2 separate regions of the Homo sapiens genome follow, and region 2 is linked to region 1. Evidence: fine-mapped expression QTL. A gene starts in region 1. The other region holds a variant in brackets. All regions are shown on one strand. Distances are between the middles of the regions.

Evidence for each region. PIP is the estimated chance that this variant, and not a neighbour inherited with it, causes the effect.
Region 2: its variant is the best candidate, but not a certain one, in a credible set for the expression of TRMT9B in sun-exposed skin (GTEx, PIP 0.55).

The regions. Positions count from the first base shown.
Region 1 is chr8:12,943,455-12,948,846 of GRCh38, reverse strand. It overlaps TRMT9B (tRNA methyltransferase 9B (putative)), which reads right to left and starts at 3,174. Exons shown (of 5, transcript NM_020844.3): 1 at 2,881-3,174.
Region 2 is chr8:13,008,206-13,013,597 of GRCh38, reverse strand. TRMT9B (tRNA methyltransferase 9B (putative)) reads right to left here. Exons shown (of 5, transcript NM_020844.3): 4 at 741-914. All of the region lies in intron 4 of LOC124901889 (a long non-coding RNA gene), which reads left to right. Among named protein-coding and RNA genes, the nearest start is that of TRMT9B, 65 kb to the right of the region's middle. The variant G/C (reference allele first, on the strand shown) is at 2,888.

The DNA of each region.
Region 1 (5,392 bases):
CGGGGACTACAGGCGCCTGCCACCATGCCCGGCTAAGTTTTTGTATTTTTAGTAGAGATGAGGTTTCACCGTGTTAGCCAGAATGGTCTCGATCTCCTGACCTCGTGATCCACCCGCCTTGGCCTCCCAAAGTGCTGGGATTACAGGCATGAGCCACCGTGCCTGGCCTTCTGTTTTTTTCTAATGTTACACTTAACTTCACTGTGTGTTGCTTAGTTAACTAAGTTTCTTTATCATTACATTTTATTATTATATCATGCATATAATTTATATACTTATATATTATATATTCATATGCAATGTAAATATATATGCAATATGAATATATATTCACATGTATTATATATTTTAATATATTTATATAATATAAATTATTGTATTATGTGTTATATACATACATATATTTATATATAACAGAATATATTATATATATTATATATACAGATGTTCCTTGAATTACGATGGTTCATTTACAATTTTTCAACTTTATGATGATTTGAAAGCAATGCATATTCACAAGAAGTTATACTTCTAGTACTCATACAACCATTGTCTTTCATTTTTACTACAGGATTCAATAAATTACATGAGATATTCAACACTTTATTATAAAATAGGCTTTGTCTTAGATGGTTTTGCCCAATTGCAGGTTAATGTAAGTGTTCTGAGCACATTTTAAGGCTAAGCTAAACCAAGCTATCATGTTCAGTAGGTTAGGTGTGTTAAATGCATTTTACAACACTTTCCATTTACAATGGGTTTATTAGGATGTAACCCCCATCGTAAGTCAAGGAGCAACAGTACTATATAATATTATTATGACCTTTCTCAGTTAACTCAGTTTCTTTATTAGTCAACTCCCTGGGTCTGGCACACACCTCTTAAGGCTACAGATGGCCGGCCATGATTCCTTGAATGCCTGCCTTACTCACTGCCTGTTTCTGAGCAAGGCAGCCCCAATGCTTCCTTATACATAGGCTGCACACTTTCCAAATGTGACCAATTCAATCAACCAAAGGAGCTATCTAGCATGTCCTGTGGACTACAAGGCTGTTGCCTAGCAAAGCATGAAATTTCTCCAGCTTATGTAATAAATACTGCACACCTGAAGTCTCTTAAGTTATGGCATTTAAGTAAGGAATTCACGTAAGTTCTTTTCCTAAAGCTTTTGACCATTATTTTACTTATCCTCATTGGCTATCACAGTCCTTAGCACTTAGAACTCAATGCACATATTTGCATTAATATGCATGTGTTGCCATAAGCCTCAAAATGTGCTGCATGATGCTTATGTCACCATTTCATTCACTTCAGCCTTGACCATCTATTTTATTCAAGGACGTGGTCTAAGGTACTGGCTCTTAGCCATTGAGGGTGCTTACCTATTATTAGCTTAATGGAGACTTACCAAAAAAATTACTGTATTTTTACCCACTTTTCTCCACCTTTCCAAGTCATCCCATATTTTTTTAGTGGTTTTAGCTAGTTTAGCATGATAACATCTTGATGCATAAGGAAGTGGAATCATCACCAGGCTGAATGGTAGACCCGGGTGAGCTTAACTTCAGATTGCAGGAAGAAATTGTGAGGTGTGTTCCAGTCTCTCAGACTGATCTTTAGGAGACTGGAGACAAAATATTCCAACAACAGGGATAGGCAAAGCTCAAGCTTTATGGCCTCATTGGTTTTAAAGGATTCCCCACAGTGACCCAGTCAGAATGGACTGAGAATCAAAGAGCTCACAGCTGTTTATTAGTCAGCACAATTTAGAGACAGACATGCTAACCAAGAGCTGTCTTTGTCATTTTGGGATGTTCACGGGCTGGAGTCCCAGTAGCCATCTCCTAAATCCTAAACCCTTCAGTTCTTCAGCCATTTTGCTGCTAGAAAGTGTGTAGCTGCTGCCTTTATCCAAGGAACTGATATCTTCCACACCTCTGAAACCTGGAAGACCTTCTCAAGGTACATAGGGAACTTCCTGGCATTGGGAATAGGATGGTTTCTTCTCTTATAGGGTTTTATGCACCAAAAAGAGAAATGCCACTTCTTCTCTTTCTTCCTGAACTTTTAAAAAAGTAGTCCTGCCAAGTCTCATCATTTCTCAAGCACCTGTCCTTGGTCCTCTGCTTTTCTCTCTATATAATCTCCCTAGACAACCTCATCCACCTTTCTAACTGCAAGGAAAAACGCTGTGTAGATTTCTCAAAATTCTGTTTCTCTGAATTGGTCTTCTCATAAACCTGCAGATCCCATGCTCTCATCTTGCTTGACATCTCCACCAGGGTGACATCAACACATTCGAACCTGAGGTCCTTCGCCCTCCGTGCACCTAAAGCAGCTGCCCTTTTCTTTCTTCTACAATCTCCGTCCTCCCAGTCACCTGGCACATTCTTAGACTCTGCTTCTTCTTGCCCTTCATAGCCCATGGGTGACCACCGTCTGACAATTTTGTATCTGTACTGCTTTTATTTATCAACTCTGCTCCCTTCTTATTGTTTCTATTCTAGTTCTTTATGTCCCATTACTTCCCACCTAGATGATTACACTAATTGCTTAATCTGCTCTTCTGATTGCCAAGGCCGTCTCTTCCATAAAAGATAATTCCAGACAAAAAGCTATTGTCTAGATTAATCTTTCTGTCCTAAGAATGTATCAGTTCTTGATCTAGATGCTTCTTACATTTATCACTAACCTTTGTATAAAGTATTATTTTATTCAACAAAGATTCATTGCTGAGCAGTCTGTGAGAAAAGCAATGGGGAGCAAAACAGATAAGATATCTACCCTCATGGCACTTATAGTCTCGTGGGATGACAAACATTAATCAACTAATCACAAATATCACAACTAAAATGTGCAACCCCAAATTGCAACACATACCTTGAAGGAAGACTGCAGAGTTGCTAGGAGAGCTCACAGGTTTCATCACTTTCCCAGAGGGAGGACTGTGTAGGATTCAGCCTTAGATCCTGAAAGTCTAGTCCAGAGCCCTGCACATGGAAGTACTGAATAAGTTGAAGGAACATATGCATCAAGAAAAAAAATTCAAAACAAACTAACAAAAAACACAAAAAATGAAAAAAGAATAAAACAAAGAAAAAAAGCCAAAAGAACATGTGCATCTACTTCTGACATATACATGTGTGATCTTTTCTGTACTACACAATACTGAATAAAACACACACCGGATGTTCCCTCAAATACTGACCTCAACACATAGCCACGTTAGCTGTTTGCTTTTGTTTCCATGACCACATGTCCATGGGGCATCTAATCTCTAAATACACCCTATTTTCTTTGCCAGCATGACAACATGTAGAAACTTGTTATCCTGGTAGCATTACCAAGAATAATTGTTGCTTTATGGTGAAAGTTTTTAGGCATGCTTTAATACTTTGCTGTTATCACCAACACAAACCCATCATCCCTCTTCCCTACAGTTTGGAATGTTTGCTGAAGATGTCAAACAACATTGTTTCTTTTGCCCCTTGGGAAACTGGTTCATCCTCCAGCTGTCCTTTGTGTCATTCGCCAGCTTCCTCTCCATTTCCAAAGCTGTTTGAGTATTACCTCTTCATCCTCATGCTCTTACCTTTTGTCTGTCACTCTTTCATCATTCTGCTATTATGATCACGTAATTTTTGGAGTCAGCTTTTCGCTGGAACACTGAGTGACACATATCACTTGGCTTATTTTATCTCTTTTTTTTTCTTTTTACAATACTATTAGATAATTTGTTTCAAGAAGCACTTTTGTGCATAGAATCTCAGGTCTGATTTGGGTGTGTGTGTTGTTTGTTTCCAGCTTTGAATGAACAAGGACTGGAAAAGATGAGCTTATTTGTCATGGTAGGAAAAGAAAAACTGCAAAAAAATACAATAAATTTCACCAACAGAGAATGTGTTATATAAATAAGGGAGCAACTACATGTTAAAAAATGCAGAGCCATGATCCTGAAGACAATTTAATGACCTGGAGATACAATGCAGTGTTAAATAAAAAGCAGTTTCACCCCAATATTTTAACATTATATAGTATATTTACATATATGTAGGGGAAAATGCTGGACAACCATACAAAAATGTGACTAGTGATTTTCTCTAGGTGATGGAATTTTATTTTCATATATATATATATATATATATATATACTTTTTTTTTTGAGAGAGGCAGACTTGCTCTGTCCCTCAGGCTGGAGTGCAGTGGTGCAATCTCAGCTCACTGTAATCTCTGACTCCCAGGTTCGAGTGATTCTCCTTCCTCAGCCTCCCAAGTAGCTGGAATTACAGGCGCGTGCCACCAGGCCTGGTTAATTTTTTTGTATTTTTAGTAGAGACAGGGTTTCACCATGTTGGTCAGGCTGGTTTCAAACTCCTGACCTCAGGTGATCCACCCACTTTGGCCCCCCAAAGCGCTGGGATTACAGGCATGAGCCACCACACCTGGCCTCTTCTATATATTTTTTAAAGGGAAGGGGATTCTATGCAGTTTGCGAGCAAAGCATATCCCTATTTATAGCCACAACTCTTGTCTCATAAATTTTATTGCTATTTCATCACTGCTCTTACCAATGAAATATGTGAGGAGCAGTACCAACATAGTACTCTTTCGTTCTCTTTATTATTATTTTAAATTCTCAAGTGCAAAAGTACGAGAAAGTCCAATTGTTTCAAGTGTAGAAGTCACAATGACCTCATCATTCTCACCGTAAAAAGCTATTTTATGTCTATGTCAAAAATAAATTACCTATTGTATTTACATCCTGTTTTTTAGGTGAAGGCAAATGTTGGCTCCCTGGCTAAGTGTCTTGATGAGATCTACCTATTAGTAATGGTAATCTTGGGTTTGTATGACAGTCAGCTCTAGGAAAAATGGAGAAATAGGGTCACTCTGTGTGTGTGTGTGTGTGTGTGTGTGTGCATTATGTGCACTTGTGCACTCACCTGTGCTCGTGTCATCCCTAGAGATTTGATTCTGGGGAAAACAAAGGGTGAATTTTGAGATAGTTGGTTTTTATTTTTCTCTGGAGATATATTTTGAACTTTTTGGGGGATACAAGTTTTGAGATATTTTCAAATAAATTAATACTTAAGATTAGATCCTAATGTATGTTACTAGAAGTTAACGCATTGTAAAATAGTTTCAGAAAGCTGTGCCATAAGAAAATTTTGTTCGAAAACTATTTGCAATTGTCAAAGCACAGCTCTTATCTTCTGAGAGCAAGCAAGACAATACTAATCTTCTTCAGCCTTCCTCTCAGAGTTCAAATAACCCGAGTTCTGTGACACTGATCTTAATCAAGACCTCTGGGCCTTAAATTACTTATCTAAAAAGAGAGAGCATTGAGTCAGATAATCACTGAGATCACCCACGATTCTTAAAAGAAAATGCAT
Region 2 (5,392 bases), 65 kb before region 1:
ACAAACAAAAAAAACCTTGTCATAGGATTCCATTAAATATCAAGTTTCCCTGCATATTTAAATATGGCAGATGTCATGTATTCCTTACCTGCATGTATTTCAGGCATGGATTTTTTCCCCCCATTTTTTGGCATGTGTGTTTTCTGGTCACACTTGTTGGGAGGATATGAGAAACACATTCCCTAGACTCATGAACGATCTCTGGCAGCAAATGAGCAGAGTGGCATTATAAAAACAATGCAATCCAAGACCAGATGGGACCTACCTTCTCCATGAACTTGAGTACCAGTGAGTGGCAGATTGGTCCAGGTGACATTTGGTTTGTTAGCCCTAGAATTCTCTGTTAACAAAGGCCACTATTTTGGCCTAAAAAATGGTAATATAACTTCTAAAAATCTACTTTGCTTTGGATTAATCTGGCTTCATTTAAATATAATGAAGTGCTATTTTCAATGAGTAAGATTCCTCTAATCCTTTCTTACTCAAAAGAAATTGGAATGAATCATAAAAAAACTGCAATACCAAGTTGAAGGTTTAAATAGTTAAAACAATCATATGTGCCATAAATACATTTTGGAGTTAAGTCAAATCAGTCAAGTAGTTGAAACAATTTTTTTAAATTAGATAAAATAAATTACATTGACATTTCTACACAGAACGGATGTTGAGTCATGAGAACGGACTAAACCGGGTCAATTATTCTCATGGCAAAGGGTGAATGTGTGATCTGGCTGCCTTACCTCCTATGGAGATGATGGCATCGAAGCCCTCATCCCTAAAGGGGAGATTAAGGTTGTCACATACCATGGCTTCACATCCTCTATTCCGGGCAATCTCTACCAGTGGCCCACAGTAGTCACAGCCCACGGTATGTACCTGGCTGTTCACTTTAAGATATTTTCCAGTCCCACAACCTATAAGAGAAAAACCTGCGTTACATGCTATCCTCAATGGAAAATGTGAAATACTTCATTTGTCTCATAACAAGAAATATAATTAACCTTTTATTTATTTATTTATTTTGAGACAGAGTCTCCCTCAGTCACCCAGGCTGGAGTGCAGTGGCGCAATCTCGGTTCACTGCAACCTCTGCCTCACGGGTTCAAGCAATTCTCTTGCCTTAGCCTCCCGAGTAGGTGGGATCATAGGCGCGTGCCACCATGACCGGATAATTTTGTATTTTTAGTAGAGACGGGTTTCTCCATGTTGGTCAGGTTGGTCTCGAACTCCCAACCTCAGGTGATCCGCCTGCCTCGGCCTCCCAAAGTGCTGGGATTACAGGTGCAAGCCACTGTGCCTGGCCAACTTTTTTTTTTTTTTTAACTAACCAAGACAGAATACAACATGGTGTGAAGGTATTCACAAAAGCAAAAGAAAAGCCTTCGGCGAATACTTACAGATTCTCATATAGAAGAGAGAAAGGCAATAGGAAAAAAATAACATTTATTGAATATTTAATGAGGTGATGTCCACAGGGCTCAGTACACTGGCGCAACCAAGGCACGTTAGCTGGTCCAAGGCAAGAAAGATAGTTCTAGTATCCGAGAGACCACGTGTAGCCTCTAAGCTCACATTCATATTTCATTTTGTATATACGCATGTTTCGGCTTTTATTCTCCTGTTGTCTCTCCAAAGATTCTTACCACTTGCTGACTGCAAAACAAACAACTGTCAACAACTTTTCTATTATTTATACACTAAAACATGCCTTTCAAATTTTTAAAATTTGAACTTGAATTAGAAAAGAATTTTTAACATTGTTTTTATCCAATCTCTATTCATTGCTACATTTAAAATGATCTCTATGGGTCCAGTATACAACTCAGATTATAAAAACTACTTTTTTTCTTAAATAGACAATTTTTGATATTCACTTTCCAGTAGCAGAGACCTAAGTAATTCAGGATTTACAAAGCCCAAATATTTAGATCATTGAGGTCTTACTGATGTTATGATTGAGGTAGGTAGTAACATGAATGAATAAACCACCTTGAAACAAAGCCTTCTACAGTCTAATACTTAGTATTATATTCTATCACAGATATATAATCTAATTACTTTCCAGAAATATTAAAAGAAATCATTAGAGCCTATATTTGTACTTATTGGCATTACTGATGAAATTTTTCTACCTGAAAAGATATCTACCACTATTCAAAGATGATTAGTTTGCTGCTTCTGAAATACATCAGGACACTAATAACCCCTCCTTACTAGGCACTTTCAAAATTATGATACAGTAAAAGCAAACTTAAGATTCATTAATGCCAGCTGAGACAGTGGAGAATATATGAATAAAAAATAAAATTTGGGGTCTGGCGCGGTGGCTCATGCCTATAATCCTAGCACTTTGGGAGGCTGTGGTGGGCGGATCACTTGAGGGCAGGAGTTCGAGACCAGTCTGGCCAACATGATGAAACCCCTCTCTACTAAAAATACAAAAATTAGCTGGGTGTGGTGGCAGGTACCTGTAATCCCAGTTACTCAGGAGGCTGAGGCAGAAAAAAATCACTTAAATTCAGGAGGTGGAGGTTGCAGTGAGCTGGGGTAGCATCACCTCACTCCAGCCTAGGTGATGACAGAGTTAGATTTTGTCTCAAAAAAGAAAAAGAAAACAATTCCAGGATTATTATTTCTACGTAAATGTGACCATATTATTTCTATGATATTATTTCTTTGATCTCGTAGCCACACTGTTCCCAATAATGATTATGAGAAAAAGTACCCTCTGTTTGAAGGCAATCATGGGGAAAATATAATTCACAAAGTATTTTAAAATTAAAATCCTGTGTATTTCAAAAGACGATGGTCCTATTTTAAGAAAAATAACCTTGCAATTCATTTGCTTTTTCATTGGCTCGAGGGATACTTTAGGAGAAATGAAAGG[G/C]AAAGTTACTTCAATGATATTAATAAAATCAGACTCATACATCTTTAGAATGAGGAGGGCCTGTTCAGAGAGCATTTTGTAATAAGAAGGAAACAGAGGTCTTTTCTCCTGACATGCTTCCAGTGCCCTAGAACTCTTGATTTGCCCCTATTCATTTCTAATGGCCTTCATGTTTAAATCTTGAATGTGAACAATAAAAGAATTTTAAATATTTTTTAATCCAAACTATTGTCTATTCATCAAACAGCTGATGACTTTAGCTAAGTGGAAAAACCTAGCAACAGAAACCATTTCCTTTAGAGGACAGTCATATTACCATCTGTCTTTTCTTCTCCTCATCCCTTTGAACTTCTTTCTTTTTCATTTCTTTCTTCTTTAACTTCAATTTCATTAAAATGCATCTTTCATTTTGCAATGAAAATATGACCCTATTTATTGAATAGTTTAAAAAATGTATATAGTACAAAATTCAAAAGATACAAATTGGCAAAAAGATATTTACTATAGATGTAGTTGTTGATTTGCACAGAGGTATTTAAAGAATATTATTTGTGAGACTTTTTTTTTTTTTTTCAGATAGGGTCTCACTATGCCACCCAGGCTAGAATGCAGTGGCACCATCTCGGCTCACTGCAACCTCTGCCTCCCAGACTCAATCTGTCCTCCTACCTCAGCCTCCCAAGTAGCTGAGACTACAGGCACGTGTATCATGCTTAGCTAATTATTTTTACTGTTGTTGTATTTTTTGTAGAGATGGGGTTTCACCATGTTTTCCAGGCTGGTCTCGAACTCCTGAGCTAAAAGATCTGCCCGCCACACCTCCCAAAGTGCTAGGATTACACGTGTGAGATACCGCGCCTGGCCTATCTGTAGTGTAATTTGTAGCGGCAAAATACAGCAAACAACATGTATTAAATGTTAATATGGCACTATTAGCATAGAATGCTAGGCAGGTTTTAATACTGGGTAGCTCTATAATAAATATAAATATGGAATGATTTCCTCAATATATTAAAAGTATAACAAAACCTAGGTGTATAATTATAATTGTTTTTATAGTATACTACCATTAGTGTAACCAAAAAAGGGAAATTACCCATCACACTCTCACAGGCACAAATACGCTTATTTTTACATAAAACATCTCAAAAAGATCATACAAGAAGCTAACAGCGTCAGAGGCCTCTGGTGTGGGTTGCTTGGCGCCAGGGACTGGGATGGGAGAAGATTTTACACTAAGCATTCTTTTGTACTTTGTTGCCGAACCGTATCAGTGGGTTACCTATTAAAATACTTTTACACATTTTGAACCATTTGTTCACATCCTTTCCCTATTTTTCTTGTGACTTGTTGATAGTTTTCCCTTTTTTTTTCCTTTGAATTTAATTCCTTCTGTTTGATACTCTGAGCCTTTTAACCAACGTCTTACCATTTCCTACACCTACCCCACCCGCTTCGACACCCCAGCCCCAGGTAACCACCATTTTAATCTCTCCTTCTATGAGTCCAACTGTTTTAGATCCCATGTATAAGTGAGATCACTGGGTATTTGTCTTTCTGTGCCTGGCTGATTTCACCTAGCATAATATCTTCCAGGTTCCTCCGTGTTGTCGCAAATGACAGGATGCTGGTCCTTTTTTTACAGTGATGTTGAAGAATGCTTAGTAGATTAAAAAAATTACCGGCCGGGCGCGGTGGCTCACGCCTGTAATCCCAGCACTTTGGGAGGCGAAGGTCGGTGGATCACAAAGTCAGGAGATCGACACCATCCTGGCTAACACGGTGAAACTCCGTCTCTACTAAAAATACAAAAAATTAGCTGGGCGTGGTGGCGGGCAACTGTAGTCCCAGCTACTAGGGAGGCTGAGGCAGGAGAATGGCGTGAACCCGGGAGGCGGAGCTTGCAGTGAGCCGAGATGGCGCCCCTGCACTCCAGCCTGGGCAACAGAGCAAGACTCCGTCTCAAAAAAGAAAAAAAAATTATCTAGATTTCTATGACATGTGTTGCAGATATTTTTACTTAGTTTGATTTTGGTCTTTTGACTTGAATTGTATGTCTGTCTAGATTTTTGTCTTGTGGAACTTTTCCATTTTTATAGGGTCAAAGTTATCTGTCAATATAGTTAATCCTCATAAATTACAGCTTCCATATTTGCAGTTAATGTACCTGCTGAAATTTATTTGTAACCCCAACGTCAATACTACAGCCTTGCATTGTCATTATTAGACTTAAATACTCACAGTGCAGCAAAATATTTGAGTCATCTGAGACCCACATACCCAGCCTCCTTTTTTCAGCTCCCATACCGTAATCAAGTGTCCTTTCCATAATCTATTTAGGGCCACAATTTCTCCATTTGTACAGTTTTTACTGGTGATTTTGCTCTTTCAAATGGCCTAAGCCTGGGGCTGAAATGCCGTCTAGTGTTCCTGAACATAAGAAGGCTGGGATGTCTCTGATGGACAAAATATATGTGTTAGATAAGCTTTGTTCACGAAAGAGTT